7 linked regions of the Homo sapiens genome follow. The protein of the gene in region 1 interacts with the protein of each later gene in a pairwise test. Each region holds a gene or a part of one and is shown in the gene's direction. Other genes may lie near its edges.

The links.
Region 2: the proteins of ZNF837 (region 1) and CHIC2 interact in binary tests that used the Homo sapiens proteins (3 or more experiments, as listed by UniProt).
Region 3: the proteins of ZNF837 (region 1) and KHDRBS2 interact in binary tests that used the Homo sapiens proteins (3 or more experiments, as listed by UniProt).
Region 4: the proteins of ZNF837 (region 1) and CLK2 interact in binary tests that used the Homo sapiens proteins (3 or more experiments, as listed by UniProt).
Region 5: the proteins of ZNF837 (region 1) and PPP1R37 interact in binary tests that used the Homo sapiens proteins (3 or more experiments, as listed by UniProt).
Region 6: the proteins of ZNF837 (region 1) and SPRED2 interact in binary tests that used the Homo sapiens proteins (3 or more experiments, as listed by UniProt).
Region 7: the proteins of ZNF837 (region 1) and CCDC125 interact in binary tests that used the Homo sapiens proteins (3 or more experiments, as listed by UniProt).

Annotation. Positions count from the first base shown.
Region 1 is NC_000019.10:58,378,231-58,382,479, reverse strand, and holds the start of ZNF837 (zinc finger protein 837), read left to right. Parts: upstream 1-1,449; 5' UTR 1,450-1,539; intron 1,540-3,454; exon of another isoform or gene 3,455-3,695; intron 3,696-4,249. UniProt on the Homo sapiens protein: May be involved in transcriptional regulation.
Region 2 is NC_000004.12:54,054,606-54,058,105, reverse strand, and holds part of CHIC2 (cysteine-rich hydrophobic domain-containing protein 2), read left to right. Parts: intron 1-3,500.
Region 3 is NC_000006.12:61,975,226-61,978,725, reverse strand, and holds part of KHDRBS2 (KH domain-containing, RNA-binding, signal transduction-associated protein 2), read left to right. Parts: intron 1-513; coding exon 514-660; intron 661-3,500. UniProt on the Homo sapiens protein: RNA-binding protein that plays a role in the regulation of alternative splicing and influences mRNA splice site selection and exon inclusion. Binds both poly(A) and poly(U) homopolymers. Phosphorylation by PTK6 inhibits its RNA-binding ability.
Region 4 is NC_000001.11:155,263,505-155,267,004, reverse strand, and holds part of CLK2 (dual specificity protein kinase CLK2), read left to right. Parts: intron 1-109; coding exon 110-276; intron 277-1,050; coding exon 1,051-1,145; intron 1,146-2,230; coding exon 2,231-2,360; intron 2,361-2,454; coding exon 2,455-2,537; intron 2,538-2,704; coding exon 2,705-2,784; intron 2,785-2,964; coding exon 2,965-3,055; intron 3,056-3,296; coding exon of another isoform or gene 3,297-3,326; exon of another isoform or gene 3,327-3,349; intron 3,350-3,500. UniProt on the Homo sapiens protein: Dual specificity kinase acting on both serine/threonine and tyrosine-containing substrates. Phosphorylates serine- and arginine-rich (SR) proteins of the spliceosomal complex.
Region 5 is NC_000019.10:45,091,833-45,095,978, forward strand, and holds the start of PPP1R37 (protein phosphatase 1 regulatory subunit 37), read left to right. Parts: upstream 1-1,346; 5' UTR 1,347-1,493; coding exon 1,494-1,695; intron 1,696-4,146. UniProt on the Homo sapiens protein: Inhibits phosphatase activity of protein phosphatase 1 (PP1) complexes.
Region 6 is NC_000002.12:65,310,600-65,314,099, reverse strand, and holds the end of SPRED2 (sprouty-related, EVH1 domain-containing protein 2), read left to right. Parts: coding exon 1-599; 3' UTR 600-3,249; downstream 3,250-3,500. UniProt on the Homo sapiens protein: Negatively regulates Ras signaling pathways and downstream activation of MAP kinases. Recruits and translocates NF1 to the cell membrane, thereby enabling NF1-dependent hydrolysis of active GTP-bound Ras to inactive GDP-bound Ras.
Region 7 is NC_000005.10:69,315,802-69,319,301, reverse strand, and holds part of CCDC125 (coiled-coil domain-containing protein 125), read left to right. Parts: intron 1-3,500. UniProt on the Homo sapiens protein: May be involved in the regulation of cell migration.

The DNA of each region.
Region 1 (4,249 bases):
ATTGTCAAGGCCTTCCTGTGCAACTCTCTTCAGCCACCAAGGGACCCACAAGGCGGGCAGCCCTCCAAGTGCCCTTCAGCCTCCTGCTCGCCCTCAATTAGCTTGGTAAGCCCTGAGTTTTGTACTTGGGCAGGGAGATAGACCTCCTGACAAGGCTTTCGATGTGCAGACACCCAAAGGATGGAGAAAGGGAGTGGAACAGTCCCAGCATCCCTGAAGCAGATGCAGTGGAGGCAGAAAGGTGGGGCAAACTGGGTCGTTACATGCAATATATGTGCTGGACTGGCCAACAAAATTAGATGTCCCTATTGAGGGCAGGAGCCACACAATAGATGGGGGCAAGAGCTGGGGGTTACAAATGGGTAGGAGGCGTGACCAGTTCATCCTACCTGGGAGGGCCCGTAGAGTCAGCAACACCCAAAGGGGCTGGGGAGGCTGTGGTTCCCCAATGGGGCCGCACGTGTTAGAATCAACTAGGAGCCGGACTAGGGGCCTGGCGCAGTGGCTCAAGCCTGTACTCCCAGCACTCTGGAAGGCTGAGACACGAGGATCGCTTGAGCCCAGGAGTTCCAGACCAGTCTGGGCAACATATGGAGACCCTATCTCTAAAATAAATAAATAAATAAAAATAAAAAAACTATCCAGGCATGGTGGCTCCCACCTATAGTCCCAGCTATTCGGGAGGGTGAGGTGGGAGGGTCGCTTCAGTACAGGAGTTCGAGACCAGCCTGGGCGACATAGTGGGAGGAGGAAGGGAGGGGGAGAAGGAGGGGGAGGGAGAGAAGAAAGAAAATTAGCCGGGCGTGGTGGCGCGCGCCCCTGTTAACAGCTACTCTGGAGGCTGAAGTAGGAGGATCGCTTGAGCTCAGGAGGTCGAGGCTGCAGTGAACCGTGATGGTGTCACTGCATTAGCCTGGGCGACAGAGCGAGACCCCGTCTCAAAAAAGCAAACCAAAAAAAATACAAAAAAATAGACTTAACTGAGGAGTTTTGACGCGCATATGCTCGGGCCCAGTCCCAGATTCTGATGTTATCGGTCTGACTCGCAACGCGCTCACCAAGACACTTCAGAGCTCCCCAGGTGCTTCCCAGCCCAACTCTCCCACCCGAGGGGAGCCTGCGAACCGCAAGTCGGTTCCGGGTTGGGACCTCTTAGAAATCAGATTGGGAGAGGAGGCTATCAATCATAATCATGACCAGTCACCCGCTTTCACGAGAAGGAATGGGCGGGACCCTACGTCCCCGTCCAGAACGCCGTTTCTTTGGCGACGACTTAGGTCCACGCCCCGCCTTTTAGGTGTAGCCGGCCTCTGTTTCTATGATAACCGAAGCCCAAGCCTCTCCCTACACCGCTTTCTCCGCAGCGTCAAAGCGGGACATGACGGGACTACGTTTCCCAGCAGTCCCCGCGCGGGTTCCCGCCTGCGCTTGCTGTGGCCCGGGTCCCTCAGTGCCGCGGCGGCCCGGAGGTGGCGGGAGGACGGCTCCGCGCTGCATGCGGGGCGGGGACCAGGGACCCGTGCGGGCCGCCTCCAGAGAGTAAGTGGCATTCTGCGCGGACCCGCAACCTCGGCCTGCGAGGCGGGGACCTCCCGGCGCATAGCGCGGCCACCACCCCAGTCCCCTCTCCACCTCCGCGCGCGGGGTCCGGGGCAGAGGCGTGACGCCGCGCACTTCCGGTCCTCGCGCTCCGGGTCCGGACCGGCCACACAGCACTCGCGACCTTGAGTTCCGGGCGGGACGGGCTTCTGTAGTTCTGGCCCCCGCGTTTCCGTGCTGGGTGTCATTGAAGCCCGCGAGGGGAGGCTCCAGGCCCGGGACCCATCCTGGCGGCCTGCGGCTCTCGGAGTCAAGCCCACCTGCTAGCCGAGGCCGACGCCGGCCTCCCTACCGTCTCTGCCCCCGCATCCTGGCCTTTGCACTTTGCTCTTTCCTTGTCTGCAGACCGGTTTCATGCCCCCTCTTCACAGAGGCCCGAAGAATCCGCTGCCTCCCTCCCTGGCGCCCTCGCGCTGCTCCCTGTCTGATGTTCTTCACGTCTTTTTCTCTCTTAAACGGTCTCTTGTTCATTTCTTCTTGTCTGCGGTCCCCTCCTTCACTCACTATTAGAGCAGGATGCAGCACCGTTTGGCCCTGACACAGTGGATGTCCTGCGAGGGTTGAAGCTTGCTAATCCTTGAGGGTGGAGGCACTGTCGGGAGGACAGACACAGAAGGGAGCTGTGCCTGCACTCAGAGGACATTTCTTCTGCTGTACAGTGCATGATGCACTGTTCTTCCCATTGCGTGCACAGTGTAGAATTGGACATAGGGGCTAGAGTCTGTGTCCCCTGGGACTGTCAGTGTGGGTGAGGTTGGTCTGTGGCTCAGAGAGGTGGAGCCACGCTGAGCTGGGCACTAGCCTGTGTCCTCCACACCTCAGAGCCACCAACGTTGACTTCCCTGCACATTCTGTTTTTGTTGTTGTTGTTGTTGTTGTTGTTTTGAGACGGAGTTTCGCTCTTGTTGCCCAGGCTGGAGTGCAGTGGCGCGATCTCGGCTCACTGCAACCTCCGCCTCCCGGGTTCAAGCGATTCTCCAGCCTCAGCCTCCCGAGTAGCTGGGATTACAGGCATGCACCACCGTGCCTGGCGACTTCCCTGCACATTCTCTTGGGCAAATAAGACCTCATTGTGCCGTGTGCAACCTCCATGAGGATGTTGAACCTCACTAGCTTTCCTGTGTGTGCTGTTGCTCTGCAGTTCTGCAGGGCTCAGCCTTGGCCACGTTAACCTCTCAGTCCCCCTAAATTGGTAACTCTGCATCCTGTTCCCAACACCAGAAGCCCTAAGGACAACTAGAAAGGCTGGGCGAGCACCCAGGTGCAAGCATGCTCACCTGGGGCAGGTGGGAGGTCACTGTAAGAACAGCCTGGGAGAGCTGTAATGCACCATCAAGGACGGGCTCCTGGGACCTGGGACCCAGAGCCTCGATTGTGTTTGCTGTGCTCAGCCTCAGATCATGGGTCCATGGCTGGAATGCCACCCACCTACAGGTGGGATAGTTGGACAGTGCATCCTGGGAGCAGATCAAGGAGACGAAGAGACTCGGCCATGGTCCACAGCTCCCACCTGCTGTGTCTGGTGCTGGGAGGCAGGTTCTTGTTGCAGCAGAGGAGCCACCCCTGGGAGCAGGGCATCTGGGGACCAATCCGAAGATGCTGTTAGCACATGGCTAGCAGGTGCCCCTCAGCCCCCACCTCCCACAAGTTCAGGGTCCCTTTCTGCCAAGTGGGGACTGCTGGTTCTTCAGGACAACCCAGCTTCCCCAACCCTCTGTTCAGACACTAAGCAGTCCTCTGACTCCCCATCACTAGGGATCAGGAGAGCCCCTTACAACACACACATTCTGTCGAGGGTGCTAGACCAGTCTCTATTAGTTTCTGTGGCTGCTATAACACACTACCACAAACTGGGCAGTTTAAAACAACAGAAATTTACTCTCACAGTCCTGGAAGCCAGAAGTCTGAAATCAAGGTGTCAGCAGTACTGTGCTCTCTGACGGCTCTGGGTGGGGGTCTTTCCTTGCCTCTTCCGGCTTCTGGCGGCTCCGGGTGTTCCTTGGAGTGTGGCTGCATCACTCCAATATCAGCCTCCATCTTCACATGGACCACTCTTCTCCGTGTCAGAACTCCCTTTGCCTCCTTCATAAGGACACCTGTCATTGGAATTAGGGCACACCCAGGTTATTCAGGGTGATCTCATCACAAGATCCTTAATTATGTCTGCAAAGACCTAATAAGGTCACATTCTGAGAGTTCCGGGGTTAGGACATTGGATATATCTTTTGCAGCCTCCTTCAGTGGAACCTGCCTGATCCTGGGTGACCTCATGTGCCCATCCATTCTTGGGCCTGTCCACTGATTCCATGGTGATCAATTGTCCCTGTTTGGCCAGGCTGTCCCAGGTATGGTCTTTCACCCTGGGAAGTCCTCAGCCCCTAAGTCCCTAGAGTTCTAGGAAGTCATGCTGAGTGCTGGTCCTAGCCCTGCTCATGCCACCAGCTGTTGTACAGACTGTGACATGAAGCCAGCAGCCTTGGAGCTAATAGCAAGGCAGGTGCCCAAGTCCCTCCATCCCTGACATCTGGGTCTCTGTGACCTGGAGTTGTGTCAGAGAGGTCCAGATCCTGGCTGTGGGGCTTCTGGGATGGCACATTGTGAAAGCGGGGCCCCTGACCTCCTGCTGCTCAGCATCCATAGTGGCATGCTC
Region 2 (3,500 bases), on another chromosome or scaffold:
CTCAGAATTATCTAATTGACTAGAGGAATCATTTAATCAAAAGCGGCTATCAGATTGATACACAGTGATGCCTTAGTGGCCCTGAGGTATGTTGGAGTTTGAGAACCTTCTCTAAATGGCACTTTCATTTAAATTTCATATGTGGGCTGTTCTTTTTGGTTTGCTTTCTTCTGTCTTTGTAATTGGTCAGCTGTTCTTGGAAGCAAAACAACCAACCAGCCTTATTAGAACTGCATATAAAGTAAGAGAAGTTCATCCTGATTGTTGAATGTAGATGCTTGGGTTTTGATGCTTGGGTTTTACAATATTTATTTTGTTTTCTCAGAGTATTTTTTGCTTAATCTTTGATTATCAGCTGTCTTGTTGAGGTTTCCTGATAAGTAATTTAATGAGTATTTGTTAAATGCCCATTTTTCTGCCAGGTATTGCACAAAGCTCTGGGTATATAATGAAACCCAAAATGAAACACACATAGTTTCTGCCCTCATGGAGTTTACAGCTAATAGACAAATTTTATCTGATAAAGTTGCACTGAAGGAAATGGATGAGATCCTGTGATTGAAAATAATGTGATTAGGAAGAACCTCTCTGAGGAAGCTAACATTTAGGAAGGATGAGAGTCCTGTCAGGAGCCCCTGGATCTGGAGAACAGCAGGTGCCAAGACTCCAAGCCAAAACAAGCTTGACTTGCCTGAGGAACTGAAAGGATACCTCTATATTATGGCTAGAATATAGTGAACAAAGGGGATAATGTCTTGAAATGAGGTTGGAGGGTTCAGTAGGGGCCAGAAAGGATTGTAAAGGAATTAGAATGAAATTTAGAAGGTTATAGAAGCAGCTTCCATAAGACATGATAGTGGCCCCAGCTAGGGTGTTGATCTCTAGATTAAAGGAGTTATTACAGTTCTGTGTGTAAACCATCAAATTTCACAGCTTTTCCTATGAGGTATGGAAATACATAGCAGTGGCCACTTTTGCTGTCTAATTCCTCAGTTCTTATGTTTGTTTTGGTCTGTTTATTTTTTAATTTTAGCTTTGTGTAGGCTGAGGTTAAATAACTGGCTACCCTTACTGTTCACTGGGAGTGATTTTGATGGCATACCTGCACTTTCTGTTCTGCTGCTGGGGCAGCTAGTATGCCAAGAGAATAGCACATGCCAGAAGTAGAGAGTGTTTCCCACAAGATCATAGATTTTGAAGTGGGAACCCTCGTAAATGTGATATCCTTTAGCTGTAAGGTGTGTAGTATGTGACAGCCCTCAGTACATGATTCATTAGATTTGAGGAAAAAAATTGTGTTTTTTATATCTTACATTTAAAACTCAGTTGCATCCGTAGGAGCTGAAATGTTCTCACAGTGTCCCTGAAGAATAATTTTTTTGTTCTTAAGCTTTTTTTCTCTCCCACTATCTACTTAGGATAGAGTTGGTTGGACTTGAAGGTAACCTAACTTTGTTATTTTGATTGATAAAAAAAGTGAATGTACTATATATAGTGAGCTTCCTGCAAGAACTTCTTGTTTTATTCTCTTTGATCTTGCATTGTAGTCATAATGTGGGCCTTGGTTAGTTCAGTGGTGGAGTTCCTATGTACCCAGTCTCCTTTCTTGGTCTTTTCTAAACTGCTCAATTATAAATGTTACTTGAAATGAGTATTTTTGTTAGTCTATATTGTAAATCAATTCAACCATATATTTTGCTTAAATGAACATAATTTAGCATCATTATTTTGCTCTTAAGATTTATAGAAGTATGAAGAATATTCTAAAATATGTATAAATCAGATATACAAAAATCTTTTTTCTGTAGTTCAGAAAATTTAAAAGTTGTTAAGTTAGATCAGCTGCATCCCTATATCGCCAGAAGTTAGTTATACTGTGCATTTTCATCAGTATACACTTATATAGCTTTCACTGCTTAACAACATATTTAATCTGTTAATAATGGAAATTATAACCTTAATAATTAAAAATTGATAAAATGCTAATGCTAGATTATTATAAGACTATGTATAATGGTGAGGTTTATGATAGAGTAAATTTAACACATGCTTTGGAGAATTAAGTCTTTGATTTCACTAGTTTCCTGAATGAGATTAAACTTTCATAAAACCAGATGAACTCAAATATTGTTCAGAATGTGGTTACAGAGTTAAGATTTTTAGAATTATTCTGAAACCCAAATATACGTCTCCAACTCCAGGGTCTCTGTATCTTTTGTATAAATAGAGTATACTTTCAATTAGATCCCATCCTCCTTGAGCTACATTGATATTCAGACGTATGTTGAATCAACCAGATAAACTTAAAGCATGATTTATATGCATCAAAGCCTGTTAATTTTTTTCCATAGTTATGACTTTATCTCCAAAACTAGCTAAAAATTTGAGTTCATTGAGCTCAAAGTTCAACATTAGGAAATAAGCACTCTCTTCATGTGCCATCTGCATAACCAATATGTTCAGTTTGAAATTTCTAGTTCATATGCTCATAGGTCTTGTCATATCTGTAGGAACATAAAAATTCTCTGTATCTATAGATTTGTACAGGTGGAATGTCTCAGAATCCAGAATATCCAAAATGGAATTCATAATCTACACCCCAAATCAGCTTCAACGGCAGCCTTCCATTCTCAGTTGATGGCAGATCGAGGACCCTGTTTGTTTAGATCAAAAACTTTTTGATGTATTCTTGATTTTCCTCTTTCTCTTTCACTACATCCATTCTGTCTTGACATCTTGGCTCTGTCTTCAAAATTTGGCCCTATTTTGCCACCTACACGACTGGAGTGAATTGCCAGTCTCCCTTCTGCCTTACGCTTAATGTATTTCTTAAGTCAGTTATGGTGGCATGTACCTATAATCCCAGCTACACGGGAGGCTGAGGCAGAAAGATCACTTGAGCCCAGGAGTTTGAGACTACACTGGGCAACATAGCAAGAATCCATCTAAATTACAAAAAATATATATATATTTTTTTCTTCCCCCTGTCTCCACCTTTCCACCTTTGCCTCTCCTCTTATACAACCATTTTGGTACATCTGCTATAGTGATCCTTTTAAAACATAAGTCAGTTCAAGTCTTTTCTCTGTATCAGGCCCCTCAAAGGTTCCCCATCTCCTTCAGAGTCCTTTTAATGTTCTACCAGACCCTCCCTGATCTGGCCCATCATTACTTGTCTGGTGATCTCAGTTTCTGCTTACTATTGGCTTCAGTTTATTTTGATTTCTAATTATCGATGGCTTTACTACATCTTGACTTCAATTTAAGCCCTCTCTCTGTCAGCTCTGCATGTTACCATCTATTTGTCTTATGTTCAGATACCTCAAGAGAGAGCTGATTGAGTTAGTTAATGTTATCTAAGTTAGGCAGGACTGTTTGGCCTTGCCATTCCATGTGCTGCTACCCAGCCCAGGGATTAGCTGTTCTTAAAGCAGATGCCCACTTGTGATCTAATTAGCCAAAGTATAGGGAGTTCCTAGTTAGGCATGCGGAGTAACAGA
Region 3 (3,500 bases), on another chromosome or scaffold:
TGAGAACATAGACTTGGAAATAAGCCTTGACTTGTATAGTTACCCTACTTTTTATCACAATCAAGTAACCTTCCTAACTTCTCAAAAAGTGGCTAGAAAGTTTTAGTTTTCTTAAAGAACACAGTGATAATCTTTCACTTACCATCTGCAAAATGCTGAACATCAAGCACAAAACAATTCTTCCCTTCCAGAATGTAGTCATGTAGACTACAGTGTTAATGGCAATTCTGTGACTTATTTTCAGGGGTTTAGCATTTTCATTTAGCTGATTAAAATCTGTTGTAGATGATAATTATGCCGGTTTTTAAAATCATTCAAACACTCAAAAATGATTTTAAAATCTTTAAATGGCTTGTAGCAGATTTTTATTTCTCAAAGGGTTTCTTTGAGAAAATTATGGAAGCAAATTATGGAAAATTTGCTTAAATTATACACCTTTGTCATATTCTCAGTAAATGTTAAATCAATGTAAAATGAGTGGATTTGTATTTCTAAAAATAACCTTTTTCACAGGAAGAAGAACTAAGGAAGAGTGGGGAAGCCAAATATGCCCACTTGAGTGATGAGCTTCATGTATTAATTGAAGTGTTTGCTCCACCTGGGGAAGCTTATTCACGTATGAGTCATGCATTGGAAGAGATTAAAAAATTCCTGGTTCCTGTAAGTGTCTTTCATTTTTTACAAAGATGTTTCTTATCAGCTTCTATTTTAAAATGCACCTTTGATCTTCACTGACTTTTTAAAAGGAAACTCATATTGCAAACCAATGATCTATCCACAGGTCGATACAAAGCTAAAAAATAAAATAGGATACCAAAACCACTTAACACAGGACCTGGCGTGTTGCCATATAGTGATGGTTCCATAGCAATGTTTGTCATGCTGGTGTCATGCCATGCATCGGTTCATAGTCATGAAGAAAAAGACATGTTTATAAACAGAAATATATAATTGAAGTTGTATACTTTTTTATTGCATCTCCATCACTTGAAAGTTTATCGTTTGCAATTTACAATTAATAGGGAAATTATTTCCTGGTGTAGTGGAAAGGGAAAGAGATCAGATATGTAATAATTTGAAATAAGACAATGATATCATTTAAACATATCCAATGTATTTTCATGTGATGGCATGCCAGGTGTTGCCTCATAATAAAACATAATATAAAATCATCAATATTAGTAAAGCCAGACATCTGTTGACTTTAAACAAAAATTGGAAAAATAAACTCACTCTACCATGTGAGGGCAACAGAGAATGTTTATTTAGTAGGGCAACAAATTCAGGGTTGCATACTGGTAGAATTCTCTACTGATTTTCTAAGAAATAGAGGAAGGTTAAATGAATGAAGCTTTCCTAAAGATTGACAATTTAGCATTCTAGGAAGAAGTCATTCAAATAGAAATCTTGGCATCAGGCTTGGAGCTGGGAATAAGACAATTAGAAGAGAATGCTGAGTACAGTTTTCTGGAGCGTCTGGCAGAGTCTTCAACAGAGAAAGCACACAGCTAAGATAGATCTGCACAATGAAGAAACTGCAGATTTCTAAATAAGCAATAAACTAAGAGGAAATGGTGGGTAAGGTTCATTGATTGGCAGTGATTTTAAGAATGGGAAAAGAAAAATAAAACCAGAGAATTTCAAGAATTTAAAAGCATCAAGATCTAGTCACATAATCTATTTATATGTCCAGTTTAAAAATTAATTTCTGTCAAGGCAAGGTTATAGAATAATTGCAGACCGTTCTGATTATTCTTAACTTCATATGCACACTGAATTTCTGCACAATTTATTATCTGATGCTCATCTGAACATCTCCCTAACTAGATCTCATATTTATTAAGAATGAGGATGCTACGTTTTATTTTCCTTTTGCCTCCAAACTAAATGCCTAGTGCTGTATTGAGTAAGGAATTTTACTGTATTTAGTTCAGACCAGACCTCTGATAGCATACATAGTATAAAAATGAGACTAGGACTGTACATTACTAACATACTACATGACTTCAAGTCATTTAAATTCTCAAAGCTTCAGTTTATTCATCTTTAAAATGAAGATAATTATCATTGACCAGCCTCTATCACAGTTATGATGAATATTAAATGGGGTAATGCATATGAAAGGACTTAGAAAATTATAAAGCAGAATATTAATGGATGGTTTAAATATATTGTAGAAAATATAATAGAAATATCAAGGGATGATTTTCTGCATAGTTATTAATTGATATGTATATCTACACACATATGTATATATACATATATGTATATCCTACTCTGTAGGCTAAGTTAACACTCCTCTATTAGAAATGTCAGTAATACATCTCGCTTGCTCACTTCCTAGACAGAATGATTCTTGTAAGTATTTCATTTATATACTCTCCACTGAAATATATACTGTGTGAGGATAGGGCTGGCTGGCAGTATCTCCTTTGGCCAACACTGTATCCCCATCTTAGCATCATGCCTAGCACAATAAATATTTACTTGATAGTTTGACTGATGGAATGATGGAATGGCTGCCTATAGGCATGAGGAGTGGTGCAGGGGATAAAATAGCTATCCAGGTAAAATTTGGGGGCTAATACCCCACAGTCAAGATGCACCATATATACAGACTCAGATGAAGAATGAAAATATTACCATGGCTGGTGTGACCTGGCCATGCCTACCTCTATGATTTCATCTTGTATGTCTAACTTCTTATTCATTGCACTTCAGACATGCTGGTTTTTGTTCATTCAACAGTCCAGGCTCACTGCTCATTAAGCACCTTTGAAGATTATTCTCCAAAGTGTTGACATGGCTGTTTCCTTAGCATCCAGCTGTCAGCTTAAAGGTTAGCTTTGTAGAAAACTCTTCCCCAACCACACAATCTAAAGTAGCTGCCCCCTTTACCTTCTATCATGCAGTCTTACTATATTTTGAACGTAGTATCACTAACCACTCTATTTAACATTATAATTCATTGTTCCATTATACCTTAGTCCTTTTCACTTATTTTCCGCATAGCTCCTATCACCTTCAGATGTTTTATATCTCTCTGTGTGTGTGTGTGTGTGTGTGTGTGTGCATCTTGCTTATCTTTGATTTCTGTGCTAGAATATGAATGTCATGAGGGCTATTCTGATATGTCTCTCAATGTTTTATTAGTAAATTTTCCCATCAATGAAAGTCATAAATTTATCCCATTTGCCTTGCTTGCATCAGCAGAAAGCAAAGAATGGGAGAACCGCAAGGGGCAAAAATGAACTGCCAATTTTTTTTATTCTATGAAATGACTTGGTGATCTAAGGTTCTTTTGATATTTTATATTAAAGCCCACAGAAATGCTAAAGTTTCTATACATTAACATTTGCAAACATTGTAGATGAAGAATTCTAGGCAGTAAGAGACATGCTAGAACAACAAAGAAGGCTTATATAGGGCAAGACTCTGGAATTCCACTGACATCTTGTTCTTCTGCGAAAGGGATTAATTTTCCATGGTAGGACTTTTTA
Region 4 (3,500 bases), on another chromosome or scaffold:
TTTACACAAGTATGTGGAATCAACAGCTATGAAGTACCTCCTTGTTGGATGGCTGATGGGCAGATGGGAGCTCATCAGACAACCCCCCTTCCCCCATCTCTCTTCTCAGCCTCTGTGTCCAGATGTTTGACTGGTTTGACTACCATGGCCACATGTGTATCTCCTTTGAGCTTCTGGGCCTTAGCACCTTCGATTTCCTCAAAGACAACAACTACCTGCCCTACCCCATCCACCAAGTGCGCCACATGGCCTTCCAGCTGTGCCAGGCTGTCAAGTGTGAGTGGGGTGGGCCGAAGTGGACTCTGGGGCAGTCCCTCCCTTCATTGGATCTCTCTGTCGGTTGTGCACTGGTGAAGCCCCTAAACAGTCAGCTGTCTGTTATCTGCAGTTCTTTGATTTACTGTCATCTTGAAACGTCTTCTGACTTAACTCCTTGACTGATGTCTTTATCGTCACTGATTGCTCTTACTCTACACCTAGCCTAGCAGCAGCTAGAAGAGAAAGCCTTTGGAATCAAAGCACTTAATTACCCTCCCCTTTTCCTTTCTCCCTTTCTTGGGAAAGCATCAGTCAGACAGCAAACATAAAGAGACAAAAATACACTCCTTAGGGTAAAGGCTTACATTTGTCTGGGATGAGATGTTCATTCACAGCAAAGGAGATGGGAACACAGAGTATGTAGTTCAGCTAAGGGGCAAGGTGGGGAATTCAAAGAAATATATCATTCCTCTGGAGTCATCAAAATAATACAGTTTCACAGAATTGAGTTAACATAATGCCAGCTAGACACATGTCAAAGTGTGTACACACTACAACTCAAAGCAAACTTTTTTTTTTTTACATCAGTTGAGCTACATATGTATCTTACATTAGAAAGAGCAGAGCTTCTTAGACCAGGCATTCCATTTAGACGTAGAGCAGAAAGCAGCCCTAGTGATTCTGGACCTGTCTCCTCACTGGCTTTGCCCTAGGTAACCAGGCCTGGGGTCAGCTGATACCAGTTAGCTCTGGCCACCTGCACCAAGCCTGACCTGGCCTTCTCCCCTACAGTCCTCCATGATAACAAGCTGACACATACAGACCTCAAGCCTGAAAATATTCTGTTTGTGAATTCAGACTATGAGCTCACCTACAACCTAGAGAAGGTAAGATGGATAGGGTCTGCCCTTGGTTACTGGGGGCAGGCAGCTGCACCACTTTGCCTTCTGCCGAGCCCTTTGTTTTCTCCCTTTTATTTCGTCCTCCCACATTTTCTCCCTGTCTGGCTCCAACTGGGTAAAACTAAATAGGTTGAAAGGGAGAAATCTCTTAAGAAGACTTAAATTGGGAGATAACTTGTACAGGGGACTTCAGATAACTTTCCAGTAGAGTGAAAGTTTTTAAGGTTCTTGGTTTGGACTTTATTTATTTATTTATTTATTTATTTATTTATTTATTTGAGACAGAGTCTCACTCTGTTGCCCAGACTGATGTGCAGTGGCATAATCTCGGCTCACTGCAACCTCTACCTCCCAGGTTTAAGTGATTCTCCTGCCTCAGCCTCTGGAGTAGCTGGGATTACAGGCACCCGCCACCACGCCTGGCTAGTTTTTGTGTTTTTAGTAGAGATGGGGTTTTGCCATGTTGGCCAGGCTGGTCTCGAACCCCTAACCTCAGGTGATCTGCCTGTCTCGGGCTCCCAGAATGCTGGGATTACGGGTGTGAGCCACAGTGCCTGGCCCGGACTTCTTTTTTGAGATGTGTATTTCTGTGAGGTAGGAAAGCTCGGCTCCTTTGACTAACTGGAGATAATGGAGATCTCAGACCTAAAGAAGCTCTCCCTCCTTTGACCCCTTTGCTACATGTTACATATTTTTAGAGAAACTCCTTTGCTACATGTTACATTTTTTCAGAAAAACCCATTTGCTACATGTTACATTTTTTCAGAAAAACCCATTTGCTACATGTTACATGTTTTCAGAATAACTATATATCTGGCACTTGAGTGTAGTCTTCAGATGCTTACAGATGTGCACGCTGTTCTATAATCATTTCTTAATCCTTTTGCTCCCCTACTTCTAAAAGTATTATGCTGGATGTGGTGGAAGCTGTAAAACAGGAATTTCCCAGGGCTTGTAAGGCCAGGCAGGAGATCACAGTACCTTTTTTAAGGCTCAGAAGCAATGTAGAGAATACTGGTGGAATCTCAGTCTGGGTGCAGAGGTTCATCCTCTTTCTCCTCTGCTCCTAGAAGCGAGATGAGCGCAGTGTGAAGAGCACAGCTGTGCGGGTGGTAGACTTTGGCAGTGCCACCTTTGACCATGAGCACCATAGCACCATTGTCTCCACTCGCCATTACCGAGCACCAGAAGTCATCCTTGGTAAGGGAGGGCAAGGCTGTCCAAGTGTGTGAGATGATGTGAGGGTGGGGCCACCTAAGCCTCATAACACCTTTTCCCTCCCATTCTCACCCAGAGTTGGGCTGGTCACAGCCTTGTGATGTGTGGAGTATAGGCTGCATCATCTTTGAATACTATGTGGGATTCACCCTCTTCCAGGTAAGTGATGGGATGTCTTACTTGACTGCCTGGCATTCTTCTACCTGGTTCCTTTGTTTTCTGCTGAGGACCTGCCTACTCAGTTCTCCACATTGCCTGCCTTCCTGGCAGCTGATCCTTAGCATGCCCTTTTCAGTCCCATGCTCAGTTCTGTTTTTGTTTCCCAGACCCATGACAACAGAGAGCATCTAGCCATGATGGAAAGGATCTTGGGTCCTATCCCTTCCCGGATGATCCGAAAGACAAGGTGAACCTTGAGGGGGCACTAGTTAACTCTTTTCCTTTTCTCTCCACAGAATTGGTCTATTTCACATCATTTTCTTTTTTCTTTGATACCTCCTCTCCCCCCAGTTACTTTCAGATGGGGAAATAAGGGAATTGTAACAAGGGTGACCTTCTGATTCCTCAACCTCCCCTTCCCCTCTAGAAAGCAGAAATATTTTTACCGGGGTCGCCTGGATTGGGATGAGAACACATCAGCTGGGCGCTATGTTCGTGAGAACTGCAAACCGCTGCGGGTGAGCTGGGCTCGGGATAAATAGTGCCCACCGTCCAGAAGTCACTTCCTTCTTAGGGTGGTTTGCCCCCTGGAATGCTCTTCACAAGCAGAGGGTTAGGAAAGGAGGGGAGGAAAGCTGAAAGAAGACATCTTTGGTCAACAGAGGAAACATAAGAGGGAGTGGTTTTGTGGAGGGAAGGAGGTTAGACAGCCTAACCTTGAGACAACCAGAGATCAAAGCAATGTCCTGGATTCTTTAGGTCAGACAGAAAAGAATAAACTACCTTTGAAGAGCTTACATTTTAATGAGGAACTAAAGAAGATTCATGAAGTTGACAAGGATATACAAGTAGAAAGAACTTTCAAAGATTATGGAGTAATTGTGCTAGTGGGAAGGTAGGTTGAGCTATAATATCAGAAACGTTGGTCCTGGTGTGGTCGTGGTTAGGTAGCCTTCAAATTGG
Region 5 (4,146 bases), about 13 Mb from region 1:
TTAGGTTGGCAGATTCGTCTCTCGCCTTTGGAATTTCTACCTTCTCCTAGGTTTTGTTTTTTAAAATCAGGCCTATGATACCGCTCATGGGCTCATATTTATTTTAGCATTGTAATTTAAGTTGTATTTTATGCAACTCTACCCCGATACAGAGAGCTGTTGATGTAACTGCAGCGAGCAAATGGAGGACTAGAGACTAGCGAAGGGGCCGAGACTTCGTCTCCAGAGTATCCCTGTCAGCATCCATCAACTGCACTCATATATTGAATGCAGCTCCTATCCGCCTTTCTTTTCGACTTCTTCATGCCGTTACCACTCTTCATCAGTTAGTCTAGCCTCAATGTTTTCATTTATTTCCTTTGTTTTTTTTGGGGGGGGGGGAACGGAGTCTTGCTCTGTCGCCCAGGCTGGAGTGCAGTGGCACGATCTCGGCTCACTAAAAGCTCCGCCTCCCGGGTTCACACCATTCTCGTGCCTCAGGCTCCCGAGTAGCTGGGACTACAGGCGCCCGCCACCACGCCCGGCTAATTTTTTGTATTTTTAGTAGAGACGGGGTTTCACCGTGTTAGCCAGGATGGTCTCGATCTCCTAACCTCGTGATCCGCCCGTGTCGGCCTTCCAAAGTGCTGGGATTACAGGCGTGAGCCACCGCGCCCGGCCCATTTCTTTCCTTTCGTTGAGACAGGGTCTGGCTCTGTCTACCAGGTCGGAGTGCAGGGGCGCGATCATAGCTCAGTGCAGCCTCAACCTACCGGGCTCAAGCGATCTTCCCACCTCCCAAGTAGCTGGAACTACAGGCTCCTGTAACCAGACCCTGCTAATTTTTAAATTTTTTGTAAAGACGGGGCCTTGCTATGTTGCCCAGGCTGGTCTCGAACTCCTGGACTCAAGCGATCTTCCCGCCTCAGCCTTCCAAAGTGCTGGGATTATAGGCGTGTGCCGCCGCGCCCCGCCAGGTGTTTTCAGTTCTATGCACTCCATTCCCTGGGCTCTTGACGAATGTGCGGGAGCTGAATATTCGTTATTTGGACTCCGGCAGGAAGGCGTGGGCTCAGCTTCGCGCTTGCGCGCTGCTCTTGGAGACGGCGTCTACTTCGCCCCGCCCCTCATAGTCTGCAGTTCCGGCTCTGCAGATTCGCTGCTCACGTTTCTTTTTTCCGTGGCCCTTCCTGCCCTTTGTTTCTCTCTTCATGTCACCCGCGGGACAACTCTACGTGCAAGTCGCTGAAATCGATTTTCTGCTTCTTATAGTAAGCGGCGGGCTCGCCAGCCTCGAGCGAAAGTGTGACTGCGAACGGGCAGGCGCGCGCGGGGCTCGGCGGAGGCGCGCTTGGGCTCCCGGCGGCGACGACTACGACCACTAGGAGAGCGGACGGAGGCGGCGCCTGAAGCGGCGGCGGAGCCCATGCCCCGGGACGGCGGGCGGACCCGGAGAGACAAATCCGGGGCCCGGGGCATGTCCCCGGGGCCCCCGTGAGGAGGCGGCGGCGGCTATGGAGATCGCGCCGCAGGAGGCGCCGCCCGTGCCGGGCGCGGACGGCGACATTGAAGAGGCCCCAGCTGAGGCCGGGTCTCCCAGCCCCGCGTCGCCCCCCGCCGATGGGCGCCTCAAGGCTGCAGCCAAGCGCGTCACATTCCCGTCCGACGAGGATATCGTGTCTGGAGCAGTGGAGCCCAAAGACCCCTGGAGACATGGTAGCTACCGCGGGTGAAGCGGGGGCGGGCTCGAGAGGGACCCGGGAGTCGGGAGGGATCGGTGCAGGGCCCGGCTCGAGGTGGCGTTCAATAGATTGCACCTAATGGTGAATAAGGGGACAGTCGTCAGTTTAGAACCGTAGTCTGTTAGAAAGGGGGTGGCTATGGAGTTGGGAAGGTGAAAAGTATCTGGTTTCTGCCGCACCCCACCCACCCGAGACAAAGATGGTGATCGTTTTAGGGTTTAAAACGATGAGCAATTAAAGAAAGTTTGGTGTTTTGTCAGATGTAGAGTGTGGCAGCCTTTGCGTTCGTAGTTCCACCAGAGAAGGAGAGAAGGAGCAGTTGAGAGGAGGAGCGGGTCAACACTGGGCCTGAAAGGGCAGTTGAAAGAGTTTGATGGGTCTATGGGGGTAAAAAGAGGTTAAGTTGCTGGTCTGCAAGCCTTGGGGCAAGGAGTGGTCGTGTTGGCCACTTTCTTGGCTGGAAAGAGGGAGACTATAAACTTGGACTGTGGCTATAGAGGACTTGGTAAAAAGGAGTCAAGATAAGGTCCCAGAAGAGGAGCAGAGGTGGTGGTCAATTTGTGGTTGGGTGAGGGAGAAAGAGGCAGTGTGGTTTTTATGTTTTCTTTTTTATTGAGACAAGGTCTCACTACATTGCCCAGGCTGGTCTCGGACTTCTGGGTTCAAGCTGTCCTCCCTCCTTGGCCTCCCAGAGTGTTGGGATTACAGGTGTGAGCCACCGCCGCCTGCTGCAATGTGGTATTAAGAAGAAAAGCCAACGCCTACCGCCGCCTCCTCCTCCAAAAAAAAGAGAAGCAGAAGGAAGGCTGTCAGTCATTCAGGAGCAGAGGATGTTTGGGACATGGCTACGGAAGGGTCCTCTTGTTCCTTCCTGAGAAAGAATTGGGGGATGGCCGGGTGCATTGGCTCAGGCGTGTAATCCCAGCACTTTGGGAGGCCAAGGTGGGTGGATCACCTGAGGTCAGGAGTTTAAAACCAGCCTGGCCAACATGGGGAAACCCCGTCTCTACTAAAAATACAGAAATTGGCCGGGCATAGTGGTGCACACCTGTAATCCCATCTACTCAAGAGGCTGAGGCAGGGAGAATCGTTTGAACCCGGGAGGTGGAGGTTGCAGTGAGCTAAGATCACGACATTGTACTCCAGCCTGGGTGACAAGAGCAAAACTCCGGCTCAAAGAAAAAAAAAAAAAGAATTGGGGGATGTTATCAAGTCAGAAATTGGAGTTGCTGGCCAGTAGCAGGTGAGAGAGATGAAAAAGTTGGCTACTTGAAGTGTTGGGAGAGAGGGCCAGCGCACTGGAGAGGGTCAGGTCAGTGTTGGAGCTGAAAGGAGTGTGTTGGAGCCATAGGGCTGGGAAAGTGGAAAGTCGCTTGGGACATGCAGGGCAGTGTTGAGTCCATTTTGTGCTGGAGAAGTCTGTCAGTTCTCCTGGGGTGGAGCCCATGAAGTGAGGGATCAGACTGGCTGTGGTGGCCGTGGTTCTGTAGAAGCTGATCTGCCGGCCCTGGGCAAGGGGAGAAACTATTGCCAGTCTGTGGACAATGGAGGAATTGGTGGCTTTGATGTGAGGGTGGGAAACATGGTAACTGGAAACTGAACACACAGGGAGTCCATCATGAATGACAGTTTGGCTACTTATTATAATTTTTTAGACGGAGTCTCCCTCTGTCGCCCAGGCCAATTCTCCTGCCTCAGCCTCCTCAGTATCTGGGATTACAGGCACCTGTCATCACACCTGGCTAAAAATGTTTGTATTTTTAGTAGAGTTGGGGGTTTCACCATGTTGGCCAGGCTGGTCTCGAACTCCCGACCTCAGGTGATCTGCCCACTTAAGCCTTCCAAAGTGCTGGGATTACCGGCATGAGCCACCGTGCCCGGCTGGCTAGTTATTCTTAAAGAGGCAGTGGTTAAATTAAGACTTTTGGGCCGGACGCCATGGTTCATGCCTGCAACCCCAGCACTTTGTCAGGCCAAGGTGGGCAGATCACCTGAGCCCAGGAGTTCAAGACCAGCTTGGGCAACAAGGTGAAACCGCGTCTCTGCAAAATATACGAAAATTAGCCAGGTGTGGTGGTGCACGCCTGTAGTCCCAGCAACTCAGGAGGCTGAAGTGGGAGGATCATTTGAGCCCAGGAGGTCGATAGTGCAGTGAACTGTGATTGCGCCACTGAACTCCAGCTTGGGTGACAGAGACCCGGTCTTAAAAAAAAAAAAAAAAAAAAGAGTTTTGGCACTAGGAGCCAGCCAAGTCCTTGGGCTCTAGGCCCCAGGGATAGGTGGTTAGTTTGGGACCCGGGCACAGTCAGAATGCCCCCTGGCTATTGCGTGATATCCAGTCCAGAGCAGGAAGGGGAAAGACCTGGAGAGGCAGAGCAGGGTGTTTCAAGAGCAGAGGCTCCAGGTCAGATCCTTTGAGACCTCG
Region 6 (3,500 bases), on another chromosome or scaffold:
GGGAGAAGATCTGGATGACGGGGTACGAGGATTACCGGCACGCACCCGTCAGGGGCAAGTACCCGGACCCCTCGGAGGACGCGGACTCCTCCTACGTGCGCTTCGCCAAGGGCGAGGTCCCCAAGCATGACTACAACTACCCCTACGTGGACTCCTCAGACTTTGGCCTAGGCGAGGACCCCAAAGGCCGCGGGGGCAGCGTGATCAAGACGCAGCCCTCCCGGGGCAAGTCGCGGCGGCGGAAGGAGGACGGAGAGCGCTCGCGGTGCGTGTACTGCAGGGACATGTTCAACCACGAGGAGAACCGCCGGGGCCACTGCCAGGACGCGCCCGACTCCGTGAGAACTTGCATCCGCCGGGTGAGCTGCATGTGGTGCGCGGACAGCATGCTCTATCACTGTATGTCGGACCCCGAGGGAGACTATACAGACCCTTGCTCGTGCGATACTAGCGACGAGAAGTTTTGCCTCCGGTGGATGGCTCTTATTGCCTTGTCTTTCCTGGCCCCCTGTATGTGCTGTTACCTGCCCCTTCGGGCCTGCTACCACTGCGGAGTGATGTGCAGGTGCTGTGGCGGGAAGCACAAAGCGGCCGCGTGACTCAGTTTCCCTCCCTTCTCCCTCCATCCGCAGCCACAGGGGAACTCGTCTCTTACATACTCTCATCTTCTCCCCCGCTCCCTTCCACTCCAAGGAGCGAGGAGGGCAAGCGGCCTCCCAGCTCCCTGGTACCTCGAGGCACCATTCCAGCCAGGGACGCTGCCGGGTAGACTCTCCACTCCCCCTGCCGCCCACACTGCAGCAGCCACATCCATACACACACGCTCGCACAGTGTTCTGAGGAAGGAACCTTCGCCACAGACTCCTGTACTATTAACAATCTGTAACCAAGCTAACTGTCTCATCCATGTGTTGATTTCCTGTTTCCTCCTCCCCCGCCTCTTCCAGTTCAAAGGAGTCTGCAATTGGAACTGCTGATTTTCGGTGGGTTTTGTAGTTGATTTTTCCAAGAGCGTCGAAGACTCTCTTTCTCTTGGTTCACCTTGCCTGTCGCTAGCAAGCATCTGGTTCAGCGGAAATGGGATGTGAGAATGATGAAACCCGACAGAAGTATCTCAGCCTGCAGTCAGTTATTATGTATAGGAGGTGAGCTAGTTAACAAACTTGTACCACAAAACAATATCGCTTTAACTTTTCTAAAGCCAAATTTCCCATGTAAGCTGCAGTTTCTATCTTTAGCCCATCATCATTTTCTGCCCCCCCAAAATCTGTTGAAATGATTCACTGATGCAAAACATTCACCCGTAATAGACTGAGAATTGAGCCTTAACTTCAGATTAACTTGTGAGAATCAGGAAAATTCCTTCAACTGCATTGCATCCTCTTGGACCAGGGCTAGAATGGGGATTTCAGGTTTCTATGAGCCTCCCCATTACCCCTAAAGTAGAACATTTTTTAAATTGTGTTGCCACCACTTCTAAAAATTTAGCAATATTAGAATAGGATACTAGTGAAGTAAGAAATTTTGCTTGTTGTTTTGCAAACCAAATAGTTTCCTCAAACACAAATCAGTGTTCCCACGAACAAGTTCCAGTTGAGAAACACTAAGGTTATGGTGAATAAAACCATAGGGAGCTTCTTCCCCCCAACCCCTGGCTATTTTATATTAATGGGGAGAGGGGATTTTTAAATGTCATAAATTTGAAGAGTGGTGGGTTGCATTTTCTTCATGGGTTTATGTTTTCGTTTCATTTTGGACTCAATTTCACATCACCAAATTCCTCATTTATACTTGGGGAAAAAACAAGGCCATATGTAAAAACCCTTCCAATGCCTAAGTGTCTTTCTCCTGCAACTCCAAACCCAGACTCGCCACTTTGGGTGCACAGGTGGTTAGGTCAGCCAACTGGTTCTGCCTGTCGCCTTGCCACGGAGGAGGCTTCTAATTAGCTGGAAAAGAGTATTTTTCTAATACGTTGCAAGGATTAGCCAAATCTTCTTATTGAAGAAAGAAGAAAAGTGAAGAGTGGTTACCTATACCTAGCATAGTACAATCAGAACCTCGTGGAGACCACCGGGGACAGGCTTGCGGACGCCGGCTGTTCTTCCCGCCACGATCTTTCTGTGGTAGCGGCCAGCAGAAGACATGGCCTGCTCCCCACTCCCTTTCCCCACTCCTTCTTTATTGCACACAGGACACCAGTCTTCAAGGAAAGGGACTTTTTTCCAGTCTGCCAATCATATTGGGAAAGTGCTAGCTGTGCTCACCTTCATGGGGCTGTTTCCAGCTCGTCCACAAGCTCATCGATTTTCTTTAGTAGATTACCGGTGTAAATACCCAGTGTGCTTATGAGTCAGTTAGTAGACGTCTTCATTCATTGGAGTAACTGGTTTAGGCTTTCCAGTTTGGAAAAGGAGCAGAGAGCTGTCCATCTGGATTGATGGAAGAAAAGAGAACCTCATCCATGCCTGGAGAACATCTAGAAAACCTTCAGCCAGCCTCCAGTGCTGTCGAGAGACCACCTTCCCCCGACCCGGAGGCACTTCCTTGGGGTCTTTCTCTAGGGTCTCTTCTCTACAAAGCACAACACTAATGTTCGTTTCCTTAGACCTCAGTTCAAGTGCCCCTATTTATTTCAATAAGAACGCACATATCCCAGCTGTTTTTTGTTTGTCACCTCTATTTAGTTGTTACCTGTTTCTCTCTTCTTTCACCCCTTGTCCTTTTCCACCCTTTTAAGAGTTACGCTAGCAGATCTTACTCCACGTATACTTTTTGGTTTGTGAAGGCATCGGTTAAGGGCACAAAGACAGCCATGGGGACATTTATGTAAATACGTCTCTAATTGCCACACTGCAGCTGAACAGTGTGTAGTATTTTCCCAGTCAGCTTTGCCATACTGACGTCAATCATTTGAGAGAAATTATTCAGATTTTATTTTTGTATCTGTGGTAACAAAACATTAACCAAAAGATTTTCTGTCCAGAAGCCTCCCCGACCCCCCAAGCTATTTGCTCACATTAACAAATTAAAGTGCCTGAAGCATAATTCATTCTTTACCTGTATACTAAAAACCCTGTTGTATTGATTTTTTTATAATAAGCCTTTTTACCTCTGTGTAAAAAATATATATACAAGTGTATGATGTACATTTTAGTTCTTAACTTTTTTTTATGGTTTCTAATATGTATGACCAATGTAGCCATTGCTTTAAAATGTACCGTGTAAATATAAACACATCCTATCAGATCGCTGGCTTTGGGGTATTTGTCTGGCAGGAGACGAGGTGATGCTAGAGCGTTGGCAGATCTTGGAGTTCCCGCATACAGGATGGGACAGGGCTTCCTGTGCCGAAGGACATGTGGACACCGGTCTGTTTTTTCAAGGCCCTTTCCTCCTATGGTTATGTCATATTCCCAAGGGGAGACTGCAGCTCCTTGGGCTCGGATGCCTCAGTGAAAGGAAGGCTGCAGGCCACCGCCCAGGAACACCCCCTCTTC
Region 7 (3,500 bases), on another chromosome or scaffold:
GTAAACAAAATAGACAAAGGCCCTAATGTCATGGATTTCACATTCTAATAGAGGAGATAGAAAATAAACCTGCAGGCCGGGTACAGTGGCTCATGCCTGTAATCCCAGCACTTTGGGAGGCTGAGGCGGATGGATCACTTGAGGTCAGGAGCTTGAGACCAGCCTGGCCAACATGGCAAAACCCCATCTCTACTAAAAGTATAAAAATTAGCTGGGTGTGGTGGCACGTGCTTGTAGTCCCAGCTACTCGGGAGGCCGAGGCACAAGAATTGCTTGAACCCGGGAGGTGGAGCCAAAATTGTACCACTGCACTCCAGCCTGGGCAACAGAGCAAGACTTTGTCTCAAAAAAAAAAAAAGAAAAAAAACCAAAACCCTGCAAATCAACAGATGTGTAACATTGGGCAGTGGTAAGTGAAGGGATAGTGAGTGATTATGGGGAATGGGGTGCTAGTATTTCAGGCCAGGGTTAGGAAGGCTTCTGTAAGGAGGTGACATTTTTTTTCTTTTTACTTTTCTTTTTATTTTTTATTTTTATTTATTTATTATGAGGTGGAGTCTCACTCTTGTCGCCCAGGCTAGAGTGCAGTGTCACAATCTCGGCTCACTGCAACCTCCGCCTCCTGGGTTCAAGGTATTCTACTGCCTCAGCCTCCTGAGTAGCTGGGATTACAGGTGCCCGCCCCCATGCCTGGCTAATTTTTTTTTTTTTTTGTATTTTTAGTAGAGATGGGGTTTCACCACGTTGGCCAGGTTGGTTTCAAACTCCTGACCTCAAGTGATCCGCCCACCTCAGCCTCCCAAAATGCTGGGATTACAGGCATGAGCCACCGTGCCTGGCCTTTTTCTTTTTTAAAAAGAGACAGTCTCACTGTGTCACTAAGGTGGAGTGCAGTAGCATGATCACAGCTCACTGCAACCTCAAAGTCCTGGGCTTAAGCAATCCTCTTGCCTCAGTCTCCTGAGTAGCTGAGACTACAGGCATGTTCCACCATATCCGGCTAATTTAAAAGAAATTTTTTCGGCCAGGTGCTGTGGCTCACGCCTGTAATCCCAGCACTTTGGGAGGCTGAGGCGGGTGGATCATGAGGTCAGGAGTTTCAGACCAGCCTGACCAACATGGTGAAACCCCATCTGTACTAAAAATACAAAAATTAGCCAGGCATGGTGGCGTGCACCTGTAATCCCAGCTACTCAGGAGGCTGAGGCAGGAGAATCACGTGAACCTGGGAGGCGGAAGTTGCAGTGAGCCGAGATCGCACCACTGCGCTCCAGCCTGGCGACAGAGCAAGACTCAGTCTCAAAAAAAAAAAAAAAAAAAAAAAAAAATTCTAGAGACAAGGTCTCACTATGTTACCCAGGCTGGTCTCAAACTCCTGACCTCAAGCAGTCCTCCCACCTTGGCCTGAGCACCAGAATGAAGGGGAGAGTAAGGCAGTGGATCTTTGGGAAAGGAGTGTTCCAGGAAGAACAGAGATGCTTCTGGTTATTTTAGGAGGTCATGAAACTCTCAAAAATTGTCAAAACAGTTAGTCTTAATTTATCATAACCAAAAAGAAATTATACCTTACCTTATGGAAATAATAAAATTTAGCATCGTATTTTGATAAAATGTTACAACTCCAAAATGATCGGGAGTCTGTGGATAAGCCCATGCCTGTACCATGGCACCAGCTGTTATCTGGCTAAATATTTTGTAATCTATGTTGTAAAACTTCCTCTTCTGAAACTTCCCCTCAAAGTTGAACAAACACAAATTAGAACAACATGAGAGTGATTTAAGAAACATGGTTTCAGATTTACAAAAATACGTGGTAGCTCGTGGTAGCTCAGGGTTCATCCCCATCCTTCAACATCCCTCTTGAAATCAGAATGGGATTATTTTTATATTTTTCTTCCAATTCCTTATTGTGTATAGAGAATGGATACTGTTTTGAAAGCAAAATGTTGGAAACTGAGCATGATGCTAAGATGCCTTTATAAAAACATGAAGATGCCAGGTGCGGTGGCTCATGCCTGTAATCCCAGCACTTTGGGAGACTGGGGTGGGTGGATCATGAGGTCAGGAGTTTGAGACCAGCCTGGCCAAGATGGTGAAACCCCGTCTCTACTAAAAATACAAAAAAATTAGCTGGGCATGGTGGCAGGTGCCTGTAATCCCAGCTACTTGGGAGGCTGAGGCAGGAGAATCACTTGAACCTGGGAGGCGGAGGTTGCAGTGAGCCAAGATCACACCACTGCACTCTAGCCTGGGCAACAGAGCAAGACTCCATCTCAAACAAACAAACAAACAGCATGAAGAAACACTGGGGTATAAATAAGATTTAAATAGTAATAGTATGAGTTCCCATTTTGTTGGGTTATGAACTTTTCTTTTTATTAAAGTTGGCCCTATCACTAATAGATAATTTCCAAAATACCACACATTTAATGGCTTAAAACAACACAAATTTATTATTTTACAGTTCTGTAGGTCAGAAGTCCCAAACAGGCTACGTCTGGTAGCTGATGCCTATAATCCCAGCATTTTGGGAGGCCGAGGTGGGAGAATCACTTGAGGCCAGGAGTTCGACACCAGCCTGGTCAACATAGAAAGACCACACTCCACAAAAAAAAGTTTAAAAATTAGCAGGTGTAGTAGTGTGCACCTGTAGTCCCAGCTACTTGAGAAGCTGATGCAGGAGCACTGCAGCCTGAGCAATAAAGCAAGACCCTCTCTCTGTGGGAAAAAAAGTCCCAAATAAATTTCAGTGGGCTAAAGCCAGGGTGTTGGCAGGGTGCGTTCCTTCTGGAGGTTCAGTGGGAAGACTCTACTCCTTTGCCTTTTCTAGCTCCAGAGGCTACTGCATTCCTTGGCTCATGGCCCCCTCCCCATCTTCAAAGCCAACGATGGCTGAGTCTTTCTCACATCATATCACTCTAACATTTACCTTCTCGTCTCCCTCTTTCATGTATAAGGACTCTTATGAGTACACTGGACTCACTTGGATAATCCAGAGTACTCTCCCATCTCAAAATCCTTAATCTCATCACATCTGCAAAGTTCCTTTTGCCATGTGTTCACAGCTTCTGGGAATTGGCATGTGGACATCATATTCTGCCTACCACAAGTATTAATAGAACAGAACTTGTCACTGCCAACCCAGAGTCACTCTGCCCTCCTTGGAAGCCTGTATCATCAATCACAGTACAAACATGATTTAGGTTTTGCCTTAGATACTGTCATGTTAATGAAATTTCAGAATAGCAAAGAAAGTTGTTTTGAGAAATATTTTTTCAAAGCAAACATTCTTCTCAATAAAATTTTTTTTTTACTTCCTATACTCTTGCTTATAACTTGCCACTTTAATTTTTTTTTTTTTTTTTTTTTTTACTGCCGTTGAGGCAGAAAGGAAAATGAAGCTCTTAGGAAGCTCAATTTAAATTCTCAGTTGATCACATTAAGGAGCAAATAATTGAAGTTACAGGACTCTTCTAGTCATTCTTTTTGGAAAGAAATTA